7 linked regions of the Homo sapiens genome follow. The protein of the gene in region 1 purifies or fractionates together with the protein of each later gene. This does not show direct contact. Each region holds a gene or a part of one and is shown in the gene's direction. Other genes may lie near its edges. The genes, in order: FCN3, DNAJC3, ACSL1, OAF, CDC42EP1, SLC25A25 and PCSK9.

The links.
Region 2: the proteins of FCN3 (region 1) and DNAJC3 purify together in Homo sapiens (affinity purification with mass spectrometry; one large-scale study listed by BioGRID and IntAct). This does not show direct contact.
Region 3: the proteins of FCN3 (region 1) and ACSL1 purify together in Homo sapiens (affinity purification with mass spectrometry; one large-scale study listed by BioGRID and IntAct). This does not show direct contact.
Region 4: the proteins of FCN3 (region 1) and OAF purify together in Homo sapiens (affinity purification with mass spectrometry; one large-scale study listed by BioGRID and IntAct). This does not show direct contact.
Region 5: the proteins of FCN3 (region 1) and CDC42EP1 purify together in Homo sapiens (affinity purification with mass spectrometry; one large-scale study listed by BioGRID and IntAct). This does not show direct contact.
Region 6: the proteins of FCN3 (region 1) and SLC25A25 purify together in Homo sapiens (affinity purification with mass spectrometry; one large-scale study listed by BioGRID and IntAct). This does not show direct contact.
Region 7: the proteins of FCN3 (region 1) and PCSK9 purify together in Homo sapiens (affinity purification with mass spectrometry; one large-scale study listed by BioGRID and IntAct). This does not show direct contact.

What each region holds. Positions count from the first base shown.
Region 1 is NC_000001.11:27,371,806-27,376,523, reverse strand, and holds the start of FCN3 (ficolin-3 isoform 1 precursor), read left to right. Parts: upstream 1-1,699; 5' UTR 1,700-1,705; coding exon 1,706-1,796; intron 1,797-2,072; coding exon 2,073-2,168; intron 2,169-2,514; coding exon 2,515-2,559; intron 2,560-3,003; coding exon 3,004-3,036; intron 3,037-3,260; coding exon 3,261-3,388; intron 3,389-4,718. UniProt on the Homo sapiens protein: May function in innate immunity through activation of the lectin complement pathway. Calcium-dependent and GlcNAc-binding lectin. Has affinity with GalNAc, GlcNAc, D-fucose, as mono/oligosaccharide and lipopolysaccharides from S.typhimurium and S.minnesota.
Region 2 is NC_000013.11:95,760,462-95,764,456, forward strand, and holds part of DNAJC3 (dnaJ homolog subfamily C member 3 precursor), read left to right. Parts: intron 1-217; coding exon 218-337; intron 338-3,181; coding exon 3,182-3,287; intron 3,288-3,371; coding exon 3,372-3,492; intron 3,493-3,995. UniProt on the Homo sapiens protein: Involved in the unfolded protein response (UPR) during endoplasmic reticulum (ER) stress.
Region 3 is NC_000004.12:184,822,984-184,827,554, reverse strand, and holds the start of ACSL1 (long-chain-fatty-acid--CoA ligase 1), read left to right. Parts: upstream 1-1,586; 5' UTR 1,587-1,639; intron 1,640-2,318; exon of another isoform or gene 2,319-2,389; intron 2,390-4,571. UniProt on the Homo sapiens protein: Catalyzes the conversion of long-chain fatty acids to their active form acyl-CoAs for both synthesis of cellular lipids, and degradation via beta-oxidation. Preferentially uses palmitoleate, oleate and linoleate.
Region 4 is NC_000011.10:120,227,843-120,231,140, forward strand, and holds the end of OAF (out at first protein homolog precursor), read left to right. Parts: intron 1-1,025; coding exon 1,026-1,300; 3' UTR 1,301-2,492; downstream 2,493-3,298.
Region 5 is NC_000022.11:37,566,524-37,570,231, forward strand, and holds the end of CDC42EP1 (cdc42 effector protein 1), read left to right. Parts: coding exon 1-289; intron 290-1,584; coding exon 1,585-2,297; 3' UTR 2,298-2,882; downstream 2,883-3,708. UniProt on the Homo sapiens protein: Probably involved in the organization of the actin cytoskeleton. Induced membrane extensions in fibroblasts.
Region 6 is NC_000009.12:128,067,067-128,071,031, forward strand, and holds the start of SLC25A25 (mitochondrial adenyl nucleotide antiporter SLC25A25), read left to right. Parts: upstream 1-1,165; 5' UTR 1,166-1,253; coding exon 1,254-1,514; intron 1,515-3,965. Other genes in the region: NAIF1 (nuclear apoptosis-inducing factor 1), read right to left, coding at 1-35. UniProt on the Homo sapiens protein: Electroneutral antiporter that most probably mediates the transport of adenyl nucleotides through the inner mitochondrial membrane.
Region 7 is NC_000001.11:55,056,548-55,060,542, forward strand, and holds part of PCSK9 (proprotein convertase subtilisin/kexin type 9 isoform 1 preproprotein), read left to right. Parts: exon of another isoform or gene 1-258; intron 259-783; coding exon 784-967; intron 968-1,488; coding exon 1,489-1,662; intron 1,663-1,951; coding exon 1,952-2,100; intron 2,101-2,896; coding exon of another isoform or gene 2,897-2,938; coding exon 2,939-3,116; intron 3,117-3,995.

The sequences.
Region 1 (4,718 bases):
CAGGCTTGTCTGCAGATCTTGGCATACTCGTGGGACAGTCTGGGGAAGACAGATTCCTAGAACTGGAATTGCGGTCTCAGGATATCCCTCTCGCGGACACATCCTGTCAGGCAAACACTGCCTCCACTTCCCCTGATACCACTTGCACCTCAGCCCTCTCCATAAGCACCAGGGAGGTGCAGAGGAGGCCTTGAGGGAGGGTTTCCTGAATGAGTGAATGAATGAGCCCTGCCTCTCCTCCCTTATCACCTGAGGTCCCTCTCCAGCTCAGGCCTGATCCTTCACATCTGGACCCTGGCTGCTGCGTCCTCCCTGGCTTCCCGGCCTCCAGGCCTTCCTACATGGGCTTCCCGCTCAATTGGCGTACATTAGCAGCTGTTTCCTAAGCCTCACGGGACTCAAGGTTGAGCATGGAGTCACTTTCTTTTTTTTTGAGACGGAGTTTTTGCTCTTTCGCCCAGGCTGGAGTGCAGTGGTGCGATCTCGGCTCATTGCAACCTCTGCCTTCGGGTTTCAAGTGATTCTCTTGCCTCAGCCTCCTGAGTAGCTGGGATTACAGGTGCATGCCACCAAGCCCGGCTAATTTTTGTATTTTTAGTAGAGACAGGGTTTCACCGTGTTAGCCAGGCTGGTCTCGAACCCCTGACCTCAGGTGATCTGCCTGCCTCGGACTCCCAAAATCCCGGGATTACAGGCATGAGCCACCGCAGCCAGCCAGAATCACTTTCTTAATGGTGCTTTTCCCTGGCGGGGGCATGGGGCTTGGGTAAAACTCTGTTGCTCTCAGCATATAAGTGGCCAAGAGAACAGAAGTCACGTCCCATCACTGGGCCTCAGTTTCTCTTTCCTTATTCATTTAACTCTTTCTTACTGAGCACCCATTTTGTACCAGGCCCATAATGCAATAATAAGGATTAATAGCAAGTCCATGTGAGGATCGGAGGTGACGTCAGTATGACGCTGGAATGCAGTAGATGCCCAGGAAATGGTAGCAGTTGTCACTATTCATAGCATTGACAAGGATCAGGGAAGGATTCCCAGTGGAGATGGCTGTAGAGCTAGACCTTCATGGACAGATGGGGCTTCACAGGTAGAGACGACTGTGAATGTAGAGGTCTGGAGAGATGGCTGGGGAGCCCTGGAAGCCAGGATCAGAAGTTGGACTCTTTCAGTGTGCGGTGGCTCACACCTGTAATCCTAGCACTTTGGGAGGCCGAGGTGGGTGGATCACCTAAGGTCAGGATTTCGAGACCAGCCTGGCCAACATGGTGAAACCCCTTCTATACTAAAAAAAAAAATACAAAAAATTAGCTGGGCTTGGTGGCGTGCACCCATAATCCCAGCTACTTGGGAGGCTGAGGCAGGAGAATCACTTGAACCCGGGAGGCAGAGGTTGCATTGGTTGCATTGAGCTGAGAGCACGCCATTGCATTCCAGCCTGGGCAACAAGAGTGAAACTCCGTCTCAAAAAAACAAAAAAACAAAAAACAAAAAACAAAAAGATGTTGGACTCCATCCTGGTTGGATAGGGCAGGGATAATGCCCTTTCTCTCTGGGGCTGAAGGAGGAAATACTCCCACCCCCTGCTGGCTCCAGTCTGGGTGGGGTGTCCCTGGGGGACAATGGGAGGAAGTCTTGTTTCATGTCCTCCCACCAGCCTGGCCCCCTTATAATCTGGCATCCTTCCCCTGGTGGGCCCAGCAAGATGGATCTACTGTGGATCCTGCCCTCCCTGTGGCTTCTCCTGCTTGGGGGGCCTGCCTGCCTGAAGACCCAGGAACACCCCAGCTGCCCAGGTGGGCACCTAGGGTGCCCTCCTCACCAACCCACTCCTCATTCCCTCGCTGGGTGTCCCCCCACCAAGGCTCATCAACCTCAAGGAGCAGGGTGGGAGTTTCATAATCTGGGCTCTGCATGTAAATATATGCAAATGGATGCAAAGCACACGAAACCTTGCCAGCTCAGGAGACAAGCATCCTGACAGTGGGAATCTGGGAGACAGGAAGAGAACTGAAGAGGGGTCTGGAAGAGACAGTCTACCCTGTGCCCACCCTGCCTGTGTCTCCCTGTAGGACCCAGGGAACTGGAAGCCAGCAAAGTTGTCCTCCTGCCCAGTTGTCCCGGAGCTCCAGGAAGTCCTGGGGAGAAGGGAGCCCCAGGTCCTCAAGGTGAGAGGGGCTGGGGAGCGGGCTGGGATCTTGGGAATGGGGAAGGCAGGAAAGTAGCAATTTTTGTCTGTGCTGAGGGGCCACGACAAAGGAGCAAGGAACCTACTCTGTGCCAGCTCCAGGCTGGGCACCCGGCATCCTAAGATCAACTCTGCCAGGTAAGTGGTTTCATCCCCATTCTGCTGAGGAGGAAAGGGAGGTTCAGAGAGGATAAGATATTTGCCCGCAATCACAAAGTGAGTGAAGGGTGAAACTGGGATTTGAACCTCTGGCTCCAAGTCTCTTGTTTCTTTTTGGTCCTGGGCATGGGGTGGGACTCAGGAAATCTCTGCCTTTGTGATTTCAGGGCCACCTGGACCACCAGGCAAGATGGGCCCCAAGGGTGAGCCAGGTGAGTAAGTGGGGCTGGAGGCCTCCCCGCTTTCTTTGCCTCTGTCCCTGGACTCTAGGGTGGGATCTCTGCTTGGCTGCTGTGCCTATGATGGCTCTCTCACAGGGGAATGGATGGCTGGGAGGAGTGGGAAGGATTAGGAGAAGGGCCTGGCTACCCTATGATGGCCCTCCTATTGGGGATGGAGGGCTGGGAGGAGTGGGGAGGATTAGGAGAAGGGCCTGGGTACCCTATGAAGGCCCTCCTACAGGGTTTGGAAGGCTGGGAGGAGTGGAGAGGATTAGGAGAAGGGCCTGGGTACCCTATGATGGCCCTCCTACAGGGTATGGAAGGCTGGGAGGAGTGGGAAGGATTCGGAAAAGGGCCTGGGTACCGGCTCCACTGGTGGCTCAGCGCTGGGGTGCTGAGACATCAGAGCCAACACTCATCCCTTCTCTGGGGCAGGAGATCCAGTGAACCTGCTCCGGTGCCAGGAAGGTGAGGCAGCCCTTGCAGGAGCCAGGAACTTGGGATCACATGGTGTTGGGTGTTGGCAGACCCCCAAGTGTGGCCAAGATCCTCCCCACAGCCTCCTCAGAACCCTTCTTCAGGGACCTGAAGGAGCCAAGAGGGTCCCTAGGGTCCCACACTTGTTCCAGTGCCTGGGGGTGGGGGTCAGGGAATAACCTGGGCACCACCCCAGTCCATCTCCCCTTTCCCAGGCCCCAGAAACTGCCGGGAGCTGTTGAGCCAGGGCGCCACCTTGAGCGGCTGGTACCATCTGTGCCTACCTGAGGGCAGGGCCCTCCCAGTCTTTTGTGACATGGACACCGAGGGGGGCGGCTGGCTGGTGAGTGTCTGAGAAATGGGCTAACAGGCCAGGCCCACTGGTCACTTCTCCCCCTTGGCCCCTAGGGGAGCCAGAACCCACCAGAGCAAGGCATTTCCTAGAGGAATTCACTGACAAATGTTTAGTGAGCCCCCAATGGGACCTGAAGAAGTATGAGGGCTTCACAGAGGAGGTGCCTTTTGAAAAGACCTTAAGTTGAGTGCAGTAGCTCACGCCTGTAATCCCAGCTACTTGGGAGGCTGAGGCAAGAGAATTGCCTGAACCCAGGAGGTGGAGGTTGCAGTGAGCCGAGTTCTTGCCATTGCACTCCAGCCTGGGTGAAAAGAGTGAAACTCTGTCTCAAAAAAAAAAAAAAAAAAAAATAGGGTAGGGAGGGGCATTCCAGCTAGAAGTAAAGATAAACTCAGGGAGGCAGCAGAGTAAAAGGTTTGCAGGGAACGCGTGAGTGAGCTGAGAGCAGGCGTGGGTGTCGGCTAAAGTCTGCCGGCACTGACGGAACATGGATTGAGGACCTCTGTAAAGGCCAGTTCATGGAAGGCACTAAATGATCAACTTAAGAAGTGTGCAGCGCGCCCAGACGCGGTGGTTGGCTGGACGTGGTGGCTCACGCCTATAATCCCAGCACTTTGGGAGGCCAAGGCGGGCAGATCACCTGAGGTCAAGAGTTCGAGATCAGCCTGGCCAACATGGTGAAACCCCATCTTTACTAAAAATATAAAAATTAGCCAGGCGTGATGGTGGGCGCCTGTAATCCAAGTTATTCAGGAGGCTGAGCTGGGAGAATTGCTTGAACCCCGGAGGTGGTGGTTGCAGTGAGCCAAGATTGAGTCACTGCACTCCAGCCTGGGCAACGGAGTGAGACTCTGTCTTAAAAAAAAAAAAAAAAAAGAAGAGTGTGCAGGGCAATGGGTAGCCCCAGGAGAGTTTTAAGCAGGGGAGGGGCCAAGTAGAACTTCTGTTTTAAAAAGATGATTCGGGCTACACCATGAAAGATGCACTGCATTGGGGGACCAGTGGAGGCAGGGACATGGTTTAGGAAGACAGCAAGGAGCCAGGCAGTAAAGACAGTGGAGCAGGCCTGACACAGTAGCTCACACCTGTAATCCCAGCACTTTGGGAGGCCGAGGTGGGTGGATTGCCTGAGCTCAGGAGTTCAAGACCAGCCTGGGCAACATGGCAAAACCCCATCTCTACTAAAAATACAAAAAATTAGCTGGGCGTGGTGGCAGGTGCCTGTAATCCCAGCTATGCAGAAAGCTAAGGCACGAGAATTGCTTGAACCAGGGAGGCAGAGGTTGCAGTGAGCCGAGATCACACCACTGTACTCCAG
Region 2 (3,995 bases), on another chromosome or scaffold:
TGTTTACTATATAATGCTAGTAAGTCATTTTAATTTGAATTAACAAATGTATGCATGGTACAATGCCACGTATAAATGTATATAGTAAATTATAAGTCTCAGTATGGTTTTTGTTTAATCGTTGCAAACAAAAAATACTTTTATTGTGATTTCTGTGGAAAACTACTCATTGATTGTTTTGACATGGAGTATTTTCCTTTTTTAAATACATGAACAGTGAAGTTCGGGAATGTCTTAAACTTGACCAGGATCATAAAAGGTGTTTTGCACACTATAAACAAGTAAAGAAACTTAATAAGCTGATTGAGTCAGCTGAAGAGCTCATCAGAGATGGCAGGTGAGAATATGGTTGTTCCAACTGTCCAGCCATTCCTTATGTGCGGGGCTGTGGGCACAAGTGAACTACAGAACTGCTCTTTTACTTCTCAGCCATTGAGGGTGGGGTATTCTAGATAGCCCTGGGCCTTAGCAAAACTACCAGAATTGGACATTTTTGGAATAGGGAAGAATATAAATAATAGTAACTGTGTAGTATCCTTACCAGCAGAATTACTTGTACTATACCAAATATTTATTATCTCCTATATCAGGCTGAGCTATGTACTGAGGGTGCAGACTTAAACTTGACAATAGTTTTTGTTCTTAAGAAGTTTATAGCATTGCGTGGGAGACAAATATATGAATTGATTATTAAAAGACAATATGATACCAAAGTGATAGAATGTACATAGGATAATTGGAGTACCAAAGAGGAGTATTTACTCCAAACCAGGATGGTAAAGGCAAGGAGTAAAAGAGGAGCTTTTTTTTTTAGAGAAGGTGATAGATATTTAAATCCTAATCCTAAAGAATAAGTAAAAGTGGACAGAAGTAAGAGGCTGTGTCTGTGTGAGTGTTGTTTGTAGGGGGTTTATAGGCTGGGCAGGAGGACTGAAAAGAGTAGAGGGCACTGCAGACAAAACTGCCTAATAGAAAATAGGCTCCAATTCCTCTACTTTTAGTAGCTTTGTAAGTTGCCATCATGAGAATGCTTCACTCGGTTTCCCCCAACATCTTGCAGACTATAACGCCTTGCAAAACTATAGTACATTGTCACAATCAGGATATTGACGTGGGTGCAGTCAAGATACAGAATAATTCCATCCCAACAAGGACACCTCATGTTGCCCTTATAGCCACACCTACTTCCCTCTTGTTCCTATCCCTTCCTTAGCTTGTGGCAACCACTAATCTATTCACTTGTAGAATTCTGTCATTTTAAGAATGTTACATAAATAGAATCATACAATGTATAAACTTTTGGGATTGGCTTTTTTTTTTTTTGAGACAATCTCACTATGTTGCCCACCTGTTCACAGATACAGTCATAGTACACTCAAGTGATCCTTCTGCCTCAGCCTTCTGAGTAGCTGGGACTTCAGATGCATGCTACCACAGCTGGCAGGATGGGCTTTTTTCCCCCTCATTCGAATTGTCTGGAGATTTATCCATATTGTATCAATAATTCCTCCTTGTTTACTGTTGAGTAGTTTCCATGGTATGGATTTACTGCAGTTTGTTTAACCATTTATCCATTGAAGGACCTGAGGTTGGGAGTTTGAGACCAGCCTGACCAACACGGAGAAACCCTGTCTCTACTAAAAATACAAAATTAGCCGGGCGTGGTGGCGCATGCCTGTAATCCCAGCTACTGCGGAGGCTGAGGTGGGAGAATCGCTTGAACCCGGGAAGTTGAGGTTGCGGTGAGCCGAGATTGTGCCATTACACTCCAGCCTGGGCAACAAGAGCGAAACTCCGTCTCTAAAAAAAATGTTTTCTGTTTGCAAGTCTGTCCTTTTCAGGTCCTCTGGCTAGACAGAGCAGACTTCTGCAGGTTTTTGTTATTGTCGTTCTGTACCTGTTGGCGTTTCTGCATTGCTGGAATCTTCAGCTCCAAGTCTGGGATATATGAAACAAAAAAAAAGAACCCAGGGAACGTCTTACCATGTTTTCCTCAGGTCCTGAGTCACTAGCTAGTCTGTCTCTTTTCCTCCTTTGAAAGTTTTCTATTTTAAAAAATATACATATAATCTCTAGGGTTTTTTAGTTGTGCTTAGCTGGAGCACTTGGGACAAATACATCTATTCCACTTTCCCAGAAGCTGGCTTTTTTGTTTTCTTCTTTAAGTTCCAGGATGTATGTGCAGAATGTGGAGGTTTGTTACATAGGTAAACGTGTGCCATGGTGGTTTGCTGCACCTATCAACCCATTACTTAGGTATTAAGCCCCACATGCATTAGCTATTTGTCCTGATGCTCTCCCTCCCCTTGCTGCCTGCCCCACACAGGCCTCCGTGTGTGATGTTCCCCTCCCTGTGTCCATGTGTTCTCATTGTTCAGCTCCCACTTATGAGTGAGAATATGCAGTGCTTTGTTTTCTGTTCCTGCGTTAGTTTGCTGAGGATGATAGAGAAGCTGGCTTTTATTTTAAATGTTTTAGTTAAGCCTGTGTTTTAATACATTGGCATATTTACATATGAAGATTGTAGCACTTTGGGAATAGTGTGCCACCATGGCATAGAAACATATTTTTTACTTTACTATTGTTGAGGGAAATAACTGAGTATATAACAGGATTAGTACTTTTTACTGGTTTAAAGAAAATGCTGAAATAGCTTTTATTCTTAGAAAGCTTATACAGTTGGGAATTTAATCAGGTACCTTTTGTGTGAACTACGTTGTACTTTGTTGTAAATACTGACATTAATTATATAAAATGGCACGTAATGGGTTCCATTATTTTCATGGAAGTGTTTACTGACCAAGAAATAAAACTTGATCTCTGTATTGTTCAAGGTGCTCAGTGTAAGTCAGACTTCAACAGGGTGTTTTACTCAGGTTTGGAATTCTGAGCAATGTTTCTGTAAGGAAATTCTTCTGGTTTGATTGGTACTTATACTCACAGGTATGCTTTGTTCTGTCCATCTGCATCTCCTATGGTCATATGTTTTTATTTCCTAACTCTTAATTATGGAGTGTACCTTCTATGGGACTCTAGATTAATAAGGGAAAAGCCGAATCTGAAGCCATGGGCTCATCCAATTGGATTGATTAAGCAACACATGGTGAAGAGGGGAGGAGCCTTTCTACAGCTCTGGAAATCAAATGTCATCATTTCTTATCATGATTTGCTCATTTCTTAGATACACAGATGCTACCAGCAAATATGAATCTGTCATGAAAACAGAGCCAAGCATTGCTGAATATACAGTTCGTTCAAAGGAGAGGATTTGCCACTGCTTTTCTAAGGTAACAGTTGACTTGTTCCCAGAAATGTGAAAACTCAACATGTGGAATACCAACCATAAATCCTTGTCTCACATTTCCTTTTAGGACGAGAAGCCTGTTGAAGCTATTAGGGTTTGTTCTGAAGTTTTACAGATGGAACCTGACAATGTGAATGCCCTGAAAGATCGAGCAGAGGCCTATTTGATAGAGGAAATGTATGATGAAGGTAAATCTTTAAGGATTTGATTTGCAGTACCGAAGTGTTGATTAGGAAATTATCACATTTTAAGCTTCCTTTTCCTTAAAACAAATTTACCAGAGTACCTGGAAATGTTGACAATTTTAGAAAAATGGCAGAGAACTTGAAAATTACTCTTCCATAGTGGAACCTGAAAGGTATACCATGTGAGGAAAGAGTTCTGCCATTGAAACCAGTTCAGTACAATAGAAAAATAAATATTTTAGCTTTTTTTGTAGAAAGGAAAAAAAATAACAAAATAGAAAATTTAAATTGTAGCTCTCATGTTATCCGGAAGTAATCACTGTTCATTTTGCATTTATCTTTTCCAGCTTTTATCTATGCACATATATTACTCTATATTTTATGCACATATACATATTCTCTCTCTCTCTCTCTCTCTCTCTCTCTATATATATATATATATATACTCGGTGTGTATAAAACATAAATACAGAAAGCATACATACATGTCATATATCCCTAATATA
Region 3 (4,571 bases), on another chromosome or scaffold:
ACCATACATTTCGGTTGTTGAAGCCACTTAGTGTGTGGTACTTCGTTCCAGCAGCCCTTGAAAACAATAGACCACAGAACTTGGGAGGTGCCTGCAGAGGTTCTGGGGCTGAGGGACCGGTTGGAGAAGAGGAAAAAGGAGAGGCAAAGATGACAAAATCACGGATGGGGAGGCGAGATCTGGACAGAAAAACCAGGGATTAGCCAAGCGGGAACCAGTGAAAACGAACGTGGAGTCCATTTTTTCTAGATCTGGAAGATGGAGATCTAAAAGGACTGAGCTGCTAGAGAGGTTGCTGGTGTGTGCGTTGTCCTCACCCCACTGCACCACTGCGCCCAGCACACTGTGGGAGACACCCAGGGAAAGTCCTTCAGTTATTTGTGGGAGTGAACTGCAGTGTGGCTGAGGCCTGGAGCGAACCACGGTCAGTTTCCCCTGCCTGCAGCCCAGGCATAGCCCTGCGTTGGTTGTGCCCACACTCTGGGGGCAGCCTGAGTGCCAAGTGTGGTACTGCTCTCACTAGCATTTAACCTCTGTGCCCCAGCTTCCTCTTCTGTGAAAGGACAGTAATGACAGTACCTACCTCACTGGGTTATGAAGATTAAATAGAATAATGTGTACGCAGTGTTTGTAGCAATGCCTGGCATCAAGCACTGGGTAAACAGTATCTATTATTATCAAAGGCCTTTACGACAACAATCATTCTTCAAACGGCCCTCCAGCGAACGCTGGGCGCAAACTCCACGGTAACGGGGACCAATGTTGTTAGAGGTTGAGGTTCCTGGTAGGTCCCAGGTGCTAAAAGGAAGAGCAGCCTTTGGGATGTGAGCCCGAAAACCATCGTGTTGGCTTCTGAAGCCCCAAGATGGGCATGGCAGGGACGCGGAAGCCCTCAGAACCGCGGAAGCCCTCAGAACCGCACAGCAGGTGGCCGCCGTGGTGCAGCGCGCAGTCGGCCCTCAGCTCCCCTGCACCGGCGCGAGCTGCGGGCGCTGCCCACGTCAGGCTCTGCAGACACCAGACAGAAAAGGTCTTCCGGCCAGGGAGCGTGGGGGAAACCCTGTGGGGCCGCGCCCGTCAGTGTCAAGGAAAAACGGAGAGGAAGGCCCTTGCCTCCAGGGCCCTCGCAGCAGAATTCTGCCCGGCCTGCCAGGAGGCCAGCGGGGCACGGGCTGAGGGTGCAGGATCCGGAGGGCGCCGCCCGCCCCTCGGGCATCGCGGGGCCCAGGGTCCGCGGGGCCTCTGAGCTGAGGCGGTCCAATGTACCCTTTGTCCTTCCTCAGATTCATTATGAAATCCGAGGCAGTCTGGGCGACTCCAGCGGCGTTCGCCCGCCGCAGCCTCTCGACCGCCGGCCACCCGCCAGCCACGCGCGCCCAGACAGGAGGGCGGCCGGGCGCTCGGCGGGGCGGGGCCTGCCGGGGGCGGGGCCTGCGGGCGGGGCGGGGCCGCGGGAGGGCGGGGCCGGCGCGGCGAGCGCACCAGCAGCATCCTGGCTCAGCCGCGGCGGTGGCGGGGGCGCAACCAGCGGGCCGAGGCGGCGGCGCCAGCGGCGCCTTAAATAGCATCCAGAGCCGGCGCGGGGCAGGGAGTGGGCTGCAGTGACAGCCGGCGGCGGAGCGGCCGGTCCACGGAGGAGGTGAGTGCGCCCGCCGTGCGGAGCCGCGCCTGCTCCCGCGGCGGTGCCCGGGCCCCGGCCGAGGCGCCGGCTGACGTTGCCCTTCAGGGCCGAGCCCGGAGCAGCGGCCGCCGCGGAGGCGCGTGAGCCACCCCAGGCTCGTGGGGCCGCGCCGCCTTTCCGGCCTCCTGCCCGCGGCCCCGCTTCCCTCGGCAGCCGGAGGCCTCCGGGGTGCCCGTGCTGCCGCAGCTTCCTGTGTCTGAGTCGCGGGCGGCGCGGGCGCGGGGCTGGTGCGCGGCCGGGGATGCGCGCGGGACCGACCCTTGTGTGTGCGGCGGCGGGGACCGGCCCGGCGAAGCAGCCGGAGGCCGCGCTTCGGCTGGGAGGAGGTGGCCCAGCTGGGCCGCTGACGTTGCCCTCGTCCGCGGCCCCCGCCTGCCCAGAGGCCGGGCTCGCGGGCGTTCGGACCGCGCGTGGGGCGAGACTGCACTCGCGCCCGCTGAGATGCCGGCCCCACGCAGCGCGGCGGCACGAGGCCCACAGGCAGCTCAGAGGCCGCTGCCAGAGGCAGACATTCTCTCGGTGACTCCAGAGGAGTGCCCGTGGCCCTTGCACTTGGCCGTGGAGTCATTGATCTAAGGAGTGCTGGCATTTTTTGAAATTGAGAAGCAAAGATGATGTCTGTCACCTGGCAGCGTAGACGGAGAGTGGCGGTAGATGACTTGAATGGACACGTGGATTCGAGTCTGGGGACAGGCGTTCCCCCAGTCGGTGCGTTGTGAGAGTGTGGAAACCCCTTCCCCACTCAGTCCAATTTCAAGGTTATGGAGCATAATTAAGAGTGACCATTCTAAAAGCGTTCTCTAGTGCCCTGGCTAAGACTTTTAAGCTTCTTGGTGCAGGAGTGTCTAAAGTCCCGCGACTCTCACTGCCCTGTCTTTTATTTTCTTGACCTTTGATTAGCGTTGAGAGAAACTGGTTAAATCTTGCAGTTTCTGCCACCCATTTCACAACTTAACCTGTGATTGTCCCAAAGAAAACAATTATTGGCTTCTTGCTAGCAAAAAAATCAAAGGCTTCCGGTTGATTGTTTCTTTCTTTTTTTTCTTTTTTCAAGTGGACGTGGAAGGTTAGGCTGGCTAAAACTTAAAGTTTGAGTTGTAGGTCTGTGCTGGGTAGGCTTGAGAAGATGGAGCTTTTTAAGGAACCATTGCTCGCCATCAGATTGGAGCCAGACAGTGCAGTGTGATATAGTGGAAAAGGACCAGGTCTTGGGAGACTTACTTTCTTGTTCTGACTCAACTCGGAAAACACCTCCCTAGTCTGAGGCCCCCCTCCTTATATTTGTGAACAAACTGCATTAGACTAAAATCTTTCACGAGTCCAAATTCTGCGACTAGAAAAATAAACTTGTTAGCCGCACACCTTATACCTCTCCCCTTTAAAACAGACATATTAAAGACTTCTGTTTTCTGAATTTACTGTAAACAGAATACTTAAAAAAAAATTACCCAGACAGGCGTGGTGGCTCACTGTAATCCCAGCACTTTGGGAGACCGAGGCGGGCAGATCATTTGAGGTCAGGAGTTCGAGACCAGCCTGACCAACATGGAGAAACCCTATCTCTACTAAAAATACAAATAATTAGCCAGGCGTGGTGGCATGCATCTCTAGTCCCAGCTACTCGAGAGGCTGAGCCAGGAGAATCGCTTGAACTCAGGAGGCAGAAGTTGTGATGAGCTGAGATCCCGCCACTGCACTCCAGACTGGGCAACAGAGCAGGACTCTGTAAAAAACAAAACAAAACAAAAAATTACCCTTCCCCACAATTATAAGCATTTTGGCATATTTCCTTCCTGTCTCTGTTGTTCCTATTTTGGCAGTATTTTTATTGTTATCGCAGGCAGCCTGACTGAAAAGAAATCTGGGCTTCTAAGTTTTTGGTATTTAGGAGGTAGATACAAGTGACCCATGCATGTAGGGTTAGGTATCTATTTATACCATGCAGGTAGAGTTTTCATAGCCACCTCTACTTTTGGGTGAAGTTTAGGCTAACTGAAAGTGTACCAGCATGCATGGTGTATGCAGAAAAATGAACGTAATTCAGATTATGTGATAGTTTTCTCTTGTTGCCATTATATATAACCCAGGGCTTACCACAAACTGAAATTTCTTATGCATTGACATTTAGCATTTGATGTAAAATGACTATCTCAGAGTTGCTGCCACAAACACTGGTAAAACTGTCCCTACTTTCTAGCATGCTTAATGTCTAGGTCTTGCTACATCTTTTTTGATGTAACTGTTTTGTGGAAAATGGTTGTGTGTTTGGGGAGGCTTTTGAGAAAAGATAAGGTTGTCTTGTCATTATAACTGGGTATTTCTCCTCTCTCCCTTCCAGTTTCACTTGTCTGGAAATAGCAAGACTATAGGAGTAGTAATTTCTAGATATTTATAGTCAGTAACCTTAGAGGAATGTTTAGTTTTTAAGATCAATTGAATTTATTGTGTAAGTTTGCCATTTAAAACAGGTGCCCATTTGTGTTTACTGTCTCTTGTAACCAAACTCTGTTCAATTAGAATCCATTAGTAATGTTTTGTGGAGAGTCTTGTTTGGATGATGCAGTGCATGAGGCTCCTGTACTACAAAATAGAAAAGAAGTTCCTCTAAGGCAGCTCAAAGCTGTTGATATCCTGAAGCCTTTTTAGGCCTCCCTCTCTGACAGGCGGTGATCTGACAGGAGGTAGATAAAGGTGCCGGAGTTTTTAGTGAAGGTTGGCAGTCCAACTTGGTAGTCAGACAAACACATGATGGTCAAAAGTGCCTTTGACACTGGGGCCTGGAGAAGAATTCTCAGTGGCCAGAGCTGATCTGAAGCTGCAGGCAGTTGAGTTTGAGTTTCAACATGTTGGTACTTCAAGGGGCTTCTGAAAAGTTTTAAAGGAGCACAAG
Region 4 (3,298 bases), on another chromosome or scaffold:
CACACATACACCCTCCCCCATGGCCTGCACCCCAGACTATGCCGCAAGCTTGACATAAGTGTCCTCCAGAAGCTGGCCCCTCCCATACAGCCCCTGAGCCTAATCAGGCCGGTACCTTCCGTCTCCTCCAGCGCCCCAATATGCACACTTTCCCATTTGATCCAAGCCCTGGCCACCCTGACCTGACCTGCCCCACTGTGGGTGTGCTTTGCTGGCCCTTCTCTGCCTAGCCCTACTCAGATGTCACTTTTTTTTTTTTGAGATAAAGTCTCACTGTTGTCCCCCAGGCTGGAGTGCAATGGCACGATCTCGGCTCACTGCAACCTCCGCCACCCGGGTTCCAGCAATTCTCCTGCCTCAGCCTCCAGGATAGCTGAGATTATAGGTGCCCGCCACTGTGCCCAGCTAATTTTTGTGCTTTTAGTAGAAACAAGGTTTCACCGTGTTGGCCAGGCTGGTCTCAAACTCCTGGCCTCAGGTGATCCACCTGCCTCAGACTCCTAAAGTGGGATTACAGGCATGAGCCACTGTGCCCGGCCAGATGTCACCTTTTTTAAGAAGCCTTCCTTGACTTCCAACCTTGTCTCCCCACGCCTCTATCTCAGCACACTCCGGTATGGTGATTTTTTAAAGCATTGGGTGGCAGTGTGGTCTAGTGGAGGCCTTGAAACCTTGGCCAGATCATTAAACTCTGGGTCGATGTTCTCATCACTAAAACAGGGATGACGATACTTAGCCCATGGGGTGACTGATGGAGGTACTGTAAGTAGAGCCCGTAGCACACAGTTGATGCCATAGAGGAGGGTGATTCCTATTTAATCTGTTTCTCCCACGAGCCCAGCAAGGAGGAGCCTAGTAACCAGGTCTTACCTCTGTGTCCCATGGCAAGCTTGGAAATGGAGGTGTCTGTAAATGCCTGTGGGATGACAGAGGAGACCAAGTGGGGAATGGCAGCGGCCTCTGACTAGGGGAGCTCCTTCCCTCCCTCCCTCCCTCCCTCCCTGATCCTTGCCTCTCTCCCCCAGGTGTGGACAGTTCTGTGTTCGAGGCTCTGCCCAAGGCCTCAGAGCAGGCGGAGCTGCCTCGCTGCAGGCAGGTGGGGGACCACGGGAAGCCCTGCGTCTGCCGCTATGGCCTGAGCCTGGCCTGGTACCCCTGCATGCTCAAGTACTGCCACAGCCGCGACCGGCCCACGCCCTACAAGTGTGGCATCCGCAGCTGCCAGAAGAGCTACAGCTTCGACTTCTACGTGCCCCAGAGGCAGCTGTGTCTCTGGGATGAGGATCCCTACCCAGGCTAGGGTGGGAGCAACCTGGCGGGTGGCTGCTCTGGGCCCACTGCTCTTCACCAGCCACTAGAGGGGGTGGCAACCCCCACCTGAGGCCTTATTTCCCTCCCTCCCCACTCCCCTGGCCCTAGAGCCTGGGCCCCTCTGGCCCCATCTCACATGACTGTGAAGGGGGTGTGGCATGGCAGGGGGTCTCATGAAGGCACCCCCATTCCCACCCTGTGCCTTCCTTGCGGGCAGAGAGGGAGAGAAGGGCTCCCCAGATCTACACCCCTCCCTCCTGCATCTCCCCTGGAGTGTTCACTTGCAAGCTGCCAAAACATGATGGCCTCTGGTTGTTCTGTTGAACTCCTTGAACGTTTAGACCCTAAAAGGAGTCTATACCTGGACACCCACCTCCCCAGACACAACTCCCTTCCCCATGCACACATCTGGAAGGAGCTGGCCCCTCAGTCCCTTCCTACTCCCCAACAAGGGGCTCACTATCCCCAAAGAAGGAGCTGTTGGGGACCCACGACGCAGCCCCTGTACTGGATTACAGCATATTCTCATCTCTGGCCCCGAGGCTGCCTGTGGGGCGAGTGGAGACCTCCCATCACTGAGACAGATCACAGACCACGAGTGCCTTTCCCGGACCTGGACGTTGCCTCCAGAGCAGGCACCAGCTCTTTCCCTCTCTACACAGAAATATTTTTGTAAGGTTCTGGGGCAGGGAGGGAGCATGAAGTACGAGGAAAACTTGAATTCCAGATTTTTAGTGCAAAGTATTTATCATTTCTACCAGAAATAAACGTTTTAAGTTTTTACTTGACTAATGAGACCCAGAGTTTGGAGAAAACTTTTGGCCAATGCTGCCACCTGATGTCAGAAAGTGTCCCCACACCCTAGCAGTGGCCTATCTTGGAACAAGAACTTCGAAAGCACCTACTGTGTGCTCAGCCATTTGAGGAAGGAAGGAGGAGAAGGAAGATGTTACTAGGGAAGGATGAGATAAAACTTCTGCACCCAAGACAATGAGACAGACATAGCTGCAACCGTAGTAAGCCAGTCAGAAATAGCCAGCGCGAAGGCAAGAGATGGGGTGGAGATTGGAACCCCGCTTCAGATCTGGGCTCGGCTACTTACCTGCTGTGCAGCCATGGGTCAAGTTGCTTGACCTCTCTGTGCCTCCACTCCCTTAGCTATAAAATGAGCTTACTTAAGAGACCGAAGTGAATTCTTGCATGTCAAGCATCTAGCACATAGTGCTGTTAGCCATTCTTAGTATCATTACTATTAGTGAAAAAAGCAGACATTCCTGCAGCTATAAGCCTGACTCAATGAAATCAGACATCTGGAAGGCTCTTCACTTCCAAAGTATCTTTCAACATGAAGAGGCTGTAATAGGAAGTGCCGGGCAGGGTTCTGGATGGTTCCAGAGCGAGGGATGTGCAGGCTGCATGTATTGGGAAAGGCTTTCTGGAAGAGTTGGGGTGTGGGTTGAGGCTGGAAGATGGTAACGATTTGGCAAGGTGGAGGCAGGAGTGTTTTAGGGGTTGGAAGAGTCTCATGGGTTCCCCAGGTGACCCAACTTTCTCAAGGAAGAGATGGGGACAGTCAGATCCTTCCTTGAAGGCCTTGGCGAGGGAAGGGGTTTGCAGGGTGGTCCCCTTTACTCTGCTCCCAGAACTCCCAGAACAGGCTGCAACTGCCCCTTGAACTCATGCAGGCCAGAGGGTTGAGGGAGCTGGGCTTGCTTGGCCTTGGTTGAGCTGAGGGTCAGCGGGGAGATAACCTTTTCAGGTGGGCACACCTCCCTTCTGAACCTGTTTTCAAGGACCAGCTCAGCCTTGCTGGGGGATGGGGAGGGAGCTGTCCCATCAGTCACCCCCCAGTCCTTTTTCTCCTTCCCTTTCTGCCAGGGCCTCCATCCCAAGCCCCAGCCATTGCTCCAGGTGGGCAAGGGATACTTGGAGAAGGCACCTGCTACCTCCTGTGTGCCTTTTTTGATGGAAGGGGAGTCCCCAAATC
Region 5 (3,708 bases), on another chromosome or scaffold:
GGGGACACGTCCTTCCTCAGCAACCACGGTGGCAGCTCCGGGAGCACCCATCGCTCACCCCGCAGCTTCCTGGCCAAGAAGCTGCAGCTGGTGCGGAGGGTGGGGGCGCCCCCCCGGAGGATGGCATCTCCCCCTGCACCCTCCCCGGCTCCACCGGCCATCTCCCCCATCATCAAGAACGCCATCTCCCTGCCCCAGCTCAACCAGGCCGCCTACGACAGCCTCGTGGTTGGCAAGCTCAGCTTCGACAGCAGCCCCACCAGCTCCACGGACGGCCACTCCAGCTACGGTGAGGGCCTGGGCCATCTTGGCCCACTTTTCAGAGGCTGAGGCTGAGGCCCAGAGGGGTTCAGTGGCTCCTCCAAGCTCCAAGTGAGCTCCAAGTGACCACAGAGGTCAGGCCCAGACCCCACATCATGGATGGGGAGGGGGTGCAGTGGTGGGAACAAGCTGACTCCCCAAAACACCTGAGGTTGAGAGTGAGGAGGTGGAGTTTGAATTCTAGCTGCCCCTCACTTGCTGTGTGACCTGGGCAAGCACATCCCCCTCTCTGGGCCTTAGCTGAACCAGTCACCCACCCATTCTTGCCCCCTTCAACCAAAGCCTTCCCCTCATGTCGGAATGATATCATGGAGAGGTGAAGGGCCTGGGCTCTAGATTCCAATCCAGTTCTGCCTGAATTTCAGGAAGTCAGTTGACCTCTATAAGTTCAAGTCCTCGCCTGGATAATGAGTCTCTCGGGGTCATTGCTAAGATTCAGTGCCAGGAGAGGCGCAGGGGGGCTGATACTTAGTAGGTGCTCAGGACACTGGAGCTGTTGTTATCTGAACTTGGTTTCCTGTAACTCGACAAATTTGGGAAACCACTCACAGGAACCGCAAGCCACAGGCCTTCCTGCCCAGCCAGAAGTGCCACCTTGGCCGTTCGGTCAGAGCTCACCTGAGAACCATGGGCCCCTGCTGCCACCTGGTGGCCACTCCCTGCCTTGCGGGAGTGGCTCTAACACCCCTGCCCCAGGCGGCTGCTCAGAACCGCACTGAGGACTGGTCCACAGAAACCCGATTCTGTCTCAGGTCTGTAGTCCTGGAAGCAGGGGCTGGACATGTCTGTCCTTCATTTCTATACAGTCAGACCCTGATTGCTGGTCCCATCCTGTGTCCACAAACCAGCTCACGTGCTATGGGTTCACCTGCAGCCATCGGCCAGCGTCATGGCAGGGAGCCGGTGGCCATGGCTGAGGTCACAGTTGGGACTGAGAGGAGATTTGAGCTCCAGACTTGATTCCACCTCGTCAGACTTCTATGGCCTTGGGCTAGCTCCTTCGCCCCATCCCAAACTGAGCCTCACTTTCCCCATCTGCATAATGGAAATGAGGATAATGATGATTTTCAGCTTTCGGGGTAGACAGGAAGATCACACAGGTGACCATGGAGTGTATTCTATTGGAAAGATGGGAGAAACCGAGGCCAGAGAGGGGAGGGACTAGCCAGAGGCCACACAGCAAGCCAGGACTGGTCCTGTCTCCCCTCCTGAATTCCTGGTGAGGGACCCCAGCTCTGAGCCCACTGCCCATTTCTCTTCTAGGCCTGGACTCTGGGTTCTGCACCATCTCCCGCCTGCCCCGCTCGGAAAAGCCGCATGACCGAGACCGGGATGGTTCCTTCCCCTCTGAGCCCGGGCTTCGCCGCTCTGACTCTCTCTTGTCCTTCCGCCTGGACCTCGACCTTGGGCCCTCACTCCTCAGCGAGCTGCTAGGGGTCATGAGCCTCCCAGAAGCCCCTGCAGCTGAGACTCCAGCCCCCGCTGCAAACCCCCCAGCCCCTACTGCAAACCCCACGGGTCCTGCTGCAAACCCCCCAGCCACTACTGCAAACCCCCCAGCGCCTGCTGCAAACCCCTCAGCACCTGCCGCAACCCCCACGGGTCCTGCTGCAAATCCCCCAGCCCCTGCCGCAAGCTCCACACCCCATGGACACTGTCCCAATGGGGTAACAGCTGGGTTGGGCCCAGTGGCTGAGGTGAAGTCCAGCCCAGTGGGAGGGGGTCCCCGAGGACCTGCTGGCCCTGCCCTCGGCAGGCACTGGGGAGCAGGCTGGGATGGCGGCCACCACTACCCAGAGATGGATGCGCGGCAGGAGCGGGTGGAGGTGCTGCCCCAAGCCCGGGCCTCCTGGGAGAGCCTGGACGAAGAGTGGAGGGCGCCCCAGGCAGGCAGCAGGACCCCAGTGCCCAGCACAGTGCAAGCAAACACCTTTGAATTTGCGGATGCTGAGGAGGATGATGAGGTCAAGGTGTGAGGGGCTGGGGCACGGTCCCAGGGCCCCACCTAGGTGCAGAGCCGGCCCCTCACCTAACAGCTGGTTCCTACCAGACCGGAGAGGGGAGAAGTCATGTTGCCCCTAAACCCCTCCCCACCTCTGCAGGACAGACATGGGAGGGAGGACAGGGAAGGCCAGGCTTGCTCTGGGACTTTTATGCTCCCAGAGGCCCTGCCAAACTGACCACCTCCCCCGACTGCCACTCTGGACCTAATAGCTGTTCCTTAGGCCCCACTCCATGCCACCCCCACCAGCTGGAGGACCCAGCCTCACAGTGTGTCCTTTGTGCCAGACCAAGCGGCCCGTGGGGGGTGGGGGGCAGGGAGTGTACCACACAGGGCCATTGTCTCACCTCCCAAAGGGACCGCCTGCCCCCAGCTCATCCCAGAGCGTCCCTGCTGCAACCCTGACAGCCGTCTCCCAGGCCGCTTCCCCAACATCCCCGCCCCAGCCTCCCTCTTACCCCAGAAAGGTCAGGTATGACCTCCCGGGGAGGAATCCCACCTGCCTGTATACCCCAGACTTGCCTCTGGGGCCTGATTAAATAAGGCTGTTTTGATAAAAGGTGTCCTGCAAGATGCTTGGGGACCTGGGACAACAGCATCAGCTCTGTCTGCTTCAGTCCCCTCCCCTCCAGGGAGTTTAGAAAGCCAAGGATCCCCCATCAAGGCCCCCAGCAGGGAAGGGAAGTGGACGCGCCAAGGGGAGGGTAATGAGTAACCAGGCTGGAACGCCCCTGAGATAAGAGGCCCAGGTGGGAGCCCTTATCTGCAGTTCCGGGAACAGCCCCTGGCCCAGGTGCCTGGGACTCGTGTCTGCCCCATAATCCCACAGGGCAGCATGGCATTTGCTCTGGCGATAGTGGGGGCAAGTAGACAGAAGCAAGTGCGTAGGACTGTTGGGAGCATGTCTCAGCCTCCCAACATGGCAGCCGGGTGTCCTCATATCTGTTTCCTCCTCAGTATTATGAAAATGCCAGGAGCATTAAAATGCACGGAAAGAGAAATGCCCTCCTTAGGTATCGGAAGACCGGTTAAATTTAGCCACAAACAGCTAACGTGAGGTGGTGCACTCCCTGTCACTACAGGTATGCAACCAGAGGATGTGTGGCAGGAGGCAGGATCACTACGGGACCTCAGGATCCCTGAGAGCAGGACATTCTGGATCATGGGGTGCCTTCATTCAGAGGTCCTCAGACCAGGGGTATCCCATGTTTTTGTAAACTTGAGGGACCCAAGAGAGAAAGGAGTCACAAGCCACAGTTCTTGCCACAGGAAGACTCGATAAAAACAGATTATTTTGTTTGCTTTTAGCCCTGGGGCAGGAACTGCAGGTAGGGATAGGGGAACACACCCAAGCTCTGTTGATCCTGGTGTGACTCGGAAGAAGA
Region 6 (3,965 bases), on another chromosome or scaffold:
AAGTTCATCTTCCTTTTCTTGGCTGGGACGGCCATGGCCTCTCCCCTCCCCTCTTTTTAAAGAAATTATAATCCCCTCAAGCGCCCCAATTCCCCTTCTCTTCTTCCTCAGCCTCGCCCCTCACCCACCCCCTACAGGGGATAGGCCAGGCTTGCTCGAGGCCAAGCACTAGGCCTTTGGTAACCCCCCTCGCTACGCAAAGTGCGTAGGGCCCAGCCCCGACCGGCCCGGCCGCTGCCAGCCAGCAGCGTAATGGCTTCCTGAATCTGCCTCTTCCGCCGAGGTGTGCGGAGATCCGCCCACTTCCCCTCTTCCCGCCTCCCAGCGCTTCTCCGGGAAAACCGGCCTTCCCGGTTGGTAGCTGCTCAAATATCACGTCGATCACTGGTTCTTTCGATCTGTCGCTCAGCTAAAGAGCACGCCTGCTTACTGTAATTCGCCTGATCATTGGTCTAAAATTGTGTCCGTCGCCCAGAGGGCCCCGCCCACCTAACCTTTATTCACTTCCATTGGAAAATCATTCTGTCGTTCAATTGTCAGTATTACGACTATTAAGCCGTTAAATTCAGCTATTTTATTGGTGGTTTAGGGAGTTAGATTACCAAAACCCTGCTTCCTGAGGATACTTAGTGCTTTCGGCCGTGACCCATGGGTCAATTAACTTTTAATTCCTCCCACCGGCACAAACTCTGCCTCGCAACTGCAGTTCACAAATGCTCTCACACAAATCCTGTTTCCCACTGGAGGCTACGATCTCTCCGTACACTACCGCTCCTCCCATCCTTAAGATCCCGCAGTCTAAACAGAGTTAGTTCATCAATGGAAACTGGACACGGGGCCTTCCGCCTGCCAATCACATTACTCATGCCTATCGCTGCGTGATTTTCTCTCTCTTGGCCCCCGGCTCAGCCAATCCCCGCCTCCCTCAGTTTGAATCGGCCCCAGGCGGAGCCGGGTGACCCCGCCCACCCCATTGATCCGGGTAGTCCGTGGCGCGTGGGCTGTCCTTAGACAGGCTCCGCCCCTCCCTCCTCCCCATCCGAGCCTGTGACTGGCCTTCGGTGCGCCCGGGCGTGGCCGGCGAAGCGGGGCGCGGAGGGGCGGGGCTCCCGGAAGCCGCCCCTTCCGCCAGCTTGCCGGCGTCTCCGAGCCCGCGCTCCCAGCTGCAGAGCGCCTGGCTTGCCTCCCGCGCGGTCACCGCCGGCCCGCCGCCCCCGCTCCCGCCCGCGCCCGGAGCCCCTGCCTCGCGCCCGATGGTGAGCAGTGTGTTGTGCCGCTGTGTGGCCTCCCCGCCGCCGGACGCCGCCGCCACCGCCGCCTCTTCGTCTGCCTCATCGCCGGCGTCCGTGGGGGACCCCTGCGGCGGCGCTATCTGCGGGGGCCCGGACCACCGGCTGCGCCTGTGGAGACTCTTTCAGACGCTCGACGTCAACCGGGACGGCGGCCTGTGTGTCAACGACCTGGCGGTGGGGCTGCGGCGCCTGGGACTGCACCGCACCGAGGGCGAGCTCCAGGTAGGCTGCGCGCGTCCTCAGCACTGGCGGGGAGGGAGCCCCTCGAGGGCCGGGTGACAGGTCTCGGGGGACGGCCCCTTGGGCTGGGCGGAACCCCCACTGTCCAGAGGAAGGGTGCCCCCTGACTCACTGAGGGACACCCCACTTATGCCCTGGTGGGAGCGGGGCTCCTTCCTGACTTCTTTGGGTGCTTGAGCCGGGTTCTTCGTGGACACAGGTGGGCATCCTATGGGCTTTCTGATGGGCGAAAAGCCCTTTCTTGCCCAGAGTAGAAGGCCAGGTCTCAGGAGTGTGCCTTTGTCACCTCCTGACCTCAAGGCCAAGCTGGACGCTCCCTTCACCCAAGGATGGGTTCATCCATCAGTCCCCAGCAGCACCCCCTCCTTTCCCTCTCGTTTCCATGCCAGCCGTGGGCCCTGATCTGGTTCCTCTCAGGAACATGTGGGAGTTGAAAAAAAAATTGGTATTGGGGTTTCAGGCTGATCCGTGTGGACGTTGGCGGCGAAGACTGACAGTTCTCATGGTTTAGGCTCATCTCCATTGCCCTGTTTATCCAGAAAATGGGATCGTGATCCCCGCGGGGTTGGAGTGTGGACGGAGTGAAAGAATCCGGGGGAAATTTTTTTTCTAAAAGTCAAAGCGAGATTGTTACTATTGTGGGCTCTTGGCCGAGGTGTGGGCATAGGGGCGCAGAGAAATGGTCATCCCTGGGCCTGCCAGGAAGAGAAGTGCTGGCCTTTCTGTATGAGAACCTCAGAGCAGAGGCTGTTTCTTTCCCTTCTGTCTCTTCCCCCTTCAGTCTGACTTGGCGGGTGTAGCTGCCATTTTCCCAAGTATTTCATTTACTGTAGCTTAGCCTGATTTACAGCCTGGAATAGGACTCCTGAGTACTTTACCTAAGAACCTGTTTCACTGCTGAGTTAGTTTGGTCCATTTGTACACATGACAATTAGAGAATCTCGTAGCCAAGTATGAAAAGAATCTGGTAAACCGCCAATGAATTAAACCAATTTGTTGGGTGGGTGTACATAGGTGTTGTTAACTCATGTTCAAGATTCTTGGATCAACATCCAAGGTATTTAGCGCTAACTATTAGGATCAGCCTAGGAGGACCAAGAGTAACACTACGCAAGATAGAATGGTTAAGTCCAGGAGATTTAGAGACAAGTTTTTTTTGTTTGTTTGTTTTGAGACGGAGTCTGGTTCTGTCTCCCAGGCTGGAGTGCATTGGTGCAATCTTGGCTCACTGCAGCCTCCGCCTCCTGGGTTCAAGAGATTCTCCCGCCTCAGCCTCCCCAGTAGCTGGGATTACAGGCATGTGCCACCACACCCAGCTAATTTTTTTTTTTTTTTTTTTGAGAGAGTCTCACTCTGTCACCCAGGCTCGAGTGCAGTGGTGCGATCTTGGCTCACTGCAAGCTCCGCCTCCCGGGTTCACGCCATTCTCCTGCCTCAGCCTCCCTAGTAGCTGGGATTACAGGCATGTGCCACCACACCCAGCTAATTTTTTTTTTTTTTTTTTTTTTTTTTGAGACAGTCTCACTCTGTCACCCAGGCTCGAGTGCAGTGGTGCGATCTTGGCTCACTGCAAGCTCCGCCTCCGGGGTTCACGCCATTCTCCTGCCTCAGCCTCCCTAGTAGCTGGGACTACAGGTGCCCGCCACCATGCCCAGCTAATTTTTTTTTTGTTTGAATTTTTAAGAGAGATGGGGTTTCACCGTGTTAGCCAGGATGGTCTTGATCTCCTGACCTTGTGATCCGCCCGCCTCAGCCTCCCAAAGTGCTGGGATTACAGGCATGAGCCACCGCGCCCGGCCACCCAGCTAATTTTTGTATTTTTAGTAGAGATAGGCTTCCACCATGTTGGCCAGGTTGGTCTCGGGCTCCTGACCTCAGGTGATCCACCTGCCTCGGCCTCCCAAAGTGTTGGGATTACAGGCGTGAGCCACCGCACCCGGCTAGAGACAGGTTTTTTTTGTTTTGTTTTGTTTTGTAATGTTTCCAGTCAGTTTTACACAAAATAGTGTTGTGAACTGGAGATTTTCCTGTATGTATCTGATGAATACTCACTTGAAAAGGTAGAATGGCTGGCCGGGCACAGTGGCTTACGCCTGTAATCCCAGCACTTTGGGAGGCCAAGCCGGGTGGATCACCTGAGGTCAGGAGTTTGAGACCAGCCTGACCAATTTGGAGAAAACCCGTCTCTACTAAAAATACAAAATTAACGGGGAGTGGTGGCGCATGCCTGTAATTCCAGTACTCGGGAGGCTGAGGCAGGAGAATCGCTTGAACCCGGGAGGCGGAGATTGCGGTGAGCTGAGATTGCACCATTGCACTCCAGCCTGGGCAACAAGAGTGAAACTCCATCTCAAAAAAAAAAAAAAAAAAAAAAAGAAAGAAAGAAAAGAAAAAATAGGAAGGCTAAACCCAGAGGGTTTCTGTTTCTGCTTT
Region 7 (3,995 bases), about 28 Mb from region 1:
TCTGCCCAATACTCTTTGGGCCTCCCTGTTGTCCAGCTCTCTCCGCGGCTCCATGACTGACAACTTGAGCAAGGCTAATGTGAATGGGAGCGGTTGAGGGCTCAGACCTCTCACCCGAGGAACATCCACAGAGTGTGCCGCATGCCCGGTGCAGTGTGGCTGCGGGGACACAGACACGGAGCCTCGGCCCTGAGGAGCTGGGGGGCAGTGACCGTCCCTCCTCTGACCCACCACTCCTCCAGTGTCAGGACACTGCGGGTATCTAGGGGAAGGAATCTTGTTCCACTTCAAGTCTGGAACTTCAAGTCTGTGTGTGTGCGTGCGCGCGCGCGCGTTGGGGGTGGGGGTTGCAGAGCAGATGCGTACCTGACAGCGGTAACCTAGGTCCCCCCTGGCCTATCAAGGCTTCCCTGGCGGCCGAATTTAAAGGCATCAAGCAAACAAAGCCCAACACATCTCTGCCTTGTCCTCTCAGTTTCCCCCCGTGGCACTTAGAACCACTTGATACACCGAATAGTTTCCTATCTCCCCCACTAGGATGTAAACTCCACAGGGGCATTGGGAATGCTGCCTGGCTATGGTAGGGACAGAGGGGAGCACCAGGGCGGGGCAGGGGTGCCAGAGTTCTGCCTGGGCAGTCAGATTTTCCTTAGGAGGGGACATTTGAGTGGGACCCAAACAGGTGTATAGCAGTTGTCCAGCCCAGCTGGCAAGGCCTGAGTCTGCCTCTGCAACCCCTCTCTTGGGCTCCTTTCTCTGCCACCCACCTCCTCACCTTTCCAGGTCATCACAGTTGGGGCCACCAATGCCCAAGACCAGCCGGTGACCCTGGGGACTTTGGGGACCAACTTTGGCCGCTGTGTGGACCTCTTTGCCCCAGGGGAGGACATCATTGGTGCCTCCAGCGACTGCAGCACCTGCTTTGTGTCACAGAGTGGGACATCACAGGCTGCTGCCCACGTGGCTGGTAAGTCACCACCCCACTGCCTCGGCCACCGTGATGCTAACAGCCCCTTTGGCAGTCAGGGTCTGTGCCGGGACCTCCAGTGCCAGGCTCTGTGCAGGGGGACCAGAGATGAAGTAGGCCTGATGGTGCCTTCAAGGACACTCAGTCTGATGAGGGAGGCGAGTGCACAGAGGAAACACGAGGTCAGGGCTGTATTAGAGGGAGCCCAGAGGAGGCACCTGCCCAGCCCGAGGGTCAGAGAAGGCATCTTGGAGGAGGGACATTTGATCGGGAGCTTGATGGATGAATAGGAGTTCACCTGGCCGATAAGACAGCAACTACCAAGGCTTAGAGGTGTGAGAGGAGGCTGTCTTACCTCACTGAGTAAGGACTGCAGGCGGCTTACCTTCGAGAAGAGAGCTTAGTGTCTGTGTGCACGTGTGTTTGTGTGTATGTGTGTGCGTGTGTGCACTGGCAGGAGTCCCCTGCTGGGGCAGGAGGGCCGGGCCATCACCATCTTTCACCATTCACCCCTGCACCAGGCATTGCAGCCATGATGCTGTCTGCCGAGCCGGAGCTCACCCTGGCCGAGTTGAGGCAGAGACTGATCCACTTCTCTGCCAAAGATGTCATCAATGAGGCCTGGTTCCCTGAGGACCAGCGGGTACTGACCCCCAACCTGGTGGCCGCCCTGCCCCCCAGCACCCATGGGGCAGGTAAGCAGGATGGCAGGGTGGGCAAGTCCAGGCTGGGGCTTGGGAGGTCTGTGTGACCTTGACAGTCTCTCCCTTCTCCCTTGTCTGTGTAAGGAGGATGACGCCACCTTAAATAGGATTAAATGAGAATGGGGCTCTGAAAGGGCTGTGCAATATTTTCATAACGTGTTTTTATAGAGACAGTTGAGTATGTTCTTTAAGCCCTCCTCTCTCCTACCATGAACTAAAGATTTCTGTGGAGGTCCCCTCACTCCCAGCACCCCCTCCTCATCCCAGGCCCTTTTTGCAGGTTGGCAGCTGTTTTGCAGGACTGTATGGTCAGCACACTCGGGGCCTACACGGATGGCCACAGCCGTCGCCCGCTGCGCCCCAGATGAGGAGCTGCTGAGCTGCTCCAGTTTCTCCAGGAGTGGGAAGCGGCGGGGCGAGCGCATGGAGGTGACTGTACCCCTCCTTCGTGTGTGTGTGTGTGTGTGTGTGTGTGTGTGTGTGTGTGTGTGTGTGTGTGTCAGTGCTGGGCCCTCAGGGACCCCCAGCAAGCCCCTCCATCCTCCAGACTCCAGCTCTTCTGTAAGCTTACAGGGCTGGCCAGACCAGGAGTGGGGCACTCCTCACTTCACGCGGCTGGGGGCTGCTGGAGAGAGCCACAGCGGGAAGGGTTTCCTAGAGGCTGCAGGACAGTGCTGGATGGATTTTCAATGCTCACCTGGGTGTGAGCGTGCGGCAGGGCCGCGTGAGGGTCAGCGATCTGCTACTCTGGACTCAGCCATCTCTAGGCCCCTCTCACTCAGGTGCTCCATGGTTCTGGGAGCTGAGAAATCTCAAACCAGCAAAAAAGTGGAATTGATGTTGATGCTACAGGATAGTGCACAGATGCCATCTGGTTGCAGCATTTTGGTGGAAGGGCAGTGCCCAGCTAGGAGAGTGAGGAGGGGCAGGCATTTCTGGCTTGAGGAGATGGGGTCTTAATGCTCGTGTGAGAGGCAGAGTGGGTGGAGTGGAGCTGGCTGGATCCTTGCTTTGGCCTCCTGGATTTCTCTCTATCTCCATTTTGAAACCACTCTGTGTTTGGAAGAACTTTTGAGTATTCAGAGCTGCCCACTGGCAGAACAGTCTTCCTTGGGCAGGAGTGAGCTCCTTGTCCCCAGAAGGCTGGGTCTGGCTGGCCCCTGGCAGGGACACTGATGAGGGTGCTTGAGTTGATCCTGTCTAGTCCCTTTCTGTGTTTTCAAAGCCCATTCTAAAGCAGATTCCCATTTCCGTCTTTGACTCTAAGGCCCAAGGGGGCAAGCTGGTCTGCCGGGCCCACAACGCTTTTGGGGGTGAGGGTGTCTACGCCATTGCCAGGTGCTGCCTGCTACCCCAGGCCAACTGCAGCGTCCACACAGCTCCACCAGCTGAGGCCAGCATGGGGACCCGTGTCCACTGCCACCAACAGGGCCACGTCCTCACAGGTAGGAGGCTGGGCTTGCCCTGGGGTGAGGAGGGGTCTCTTTCTCCTTATGCACCCACTGCCCGCGAGGCTTGGTCCTCACAAGTGTGATCCATGAGACTCAAGCCTGACTTGCAGTTCCATACTCTGGTTCTGCCACTTCCATGCCCTTTGAGCCTGGGCAGGTGACCTTACTTCTCCTCATCTCAGCTTCCTCCTCCATAAGAGGGAAAAAGGTATTACCTGCCTCATTGTGTTGCAAGGAGATGGGCAGCATCTAGGGCACTGGCCTGGAGTATCGCAGGTGCTTTGCCTAAGGTGGTGCAGTCCAGGAGAGGCAGCTCCAGAGAGAGGCCCCCGGCTGGGGCTGAAAGGAGGGCAGACCTCGGTTTGAATTTCACCCTGCCGCTCTATAGCTGTGTGACTTGGGCAAATTACTTAACATCTCTGTATGAGGAAATGATGAGTGCTAAGCACTTAGCTTAGTGCCGGGACAATATAAATTCTAGCTATCGTTACTATTGTTTTCATCACCCGTTGCTTTAAAATCCAGCCTCTGGTATAGGCAACTATTGACGGGCTACCCTGTGTCGAAAACATGCCCAGGCAGGTAGCAGGAAGTCACAGATGGGGACCTCTTGGGGCATCAAGGGATGGTGCCCTGAGGCTGAGCTGTTCTGGTTGGGTGGAGCATGAGAGGTCTGGGAAGACAGTGGGACTCCAGCCTGGAATAAGAGGCTCAGAGTTGATTCTCGTCTGAGCACGTCCAGGGGAACCACTGAGGGTTTGGGAACAGGAGAGTGAGGGTGAGAACCTGGTTCTGGGCACAGCAGGCTGGCATGTAGGATGGATGTTCAGGAAAGATGAGCATAGTCAGGTGGCTGGTGCCCTTGTCCAGGGG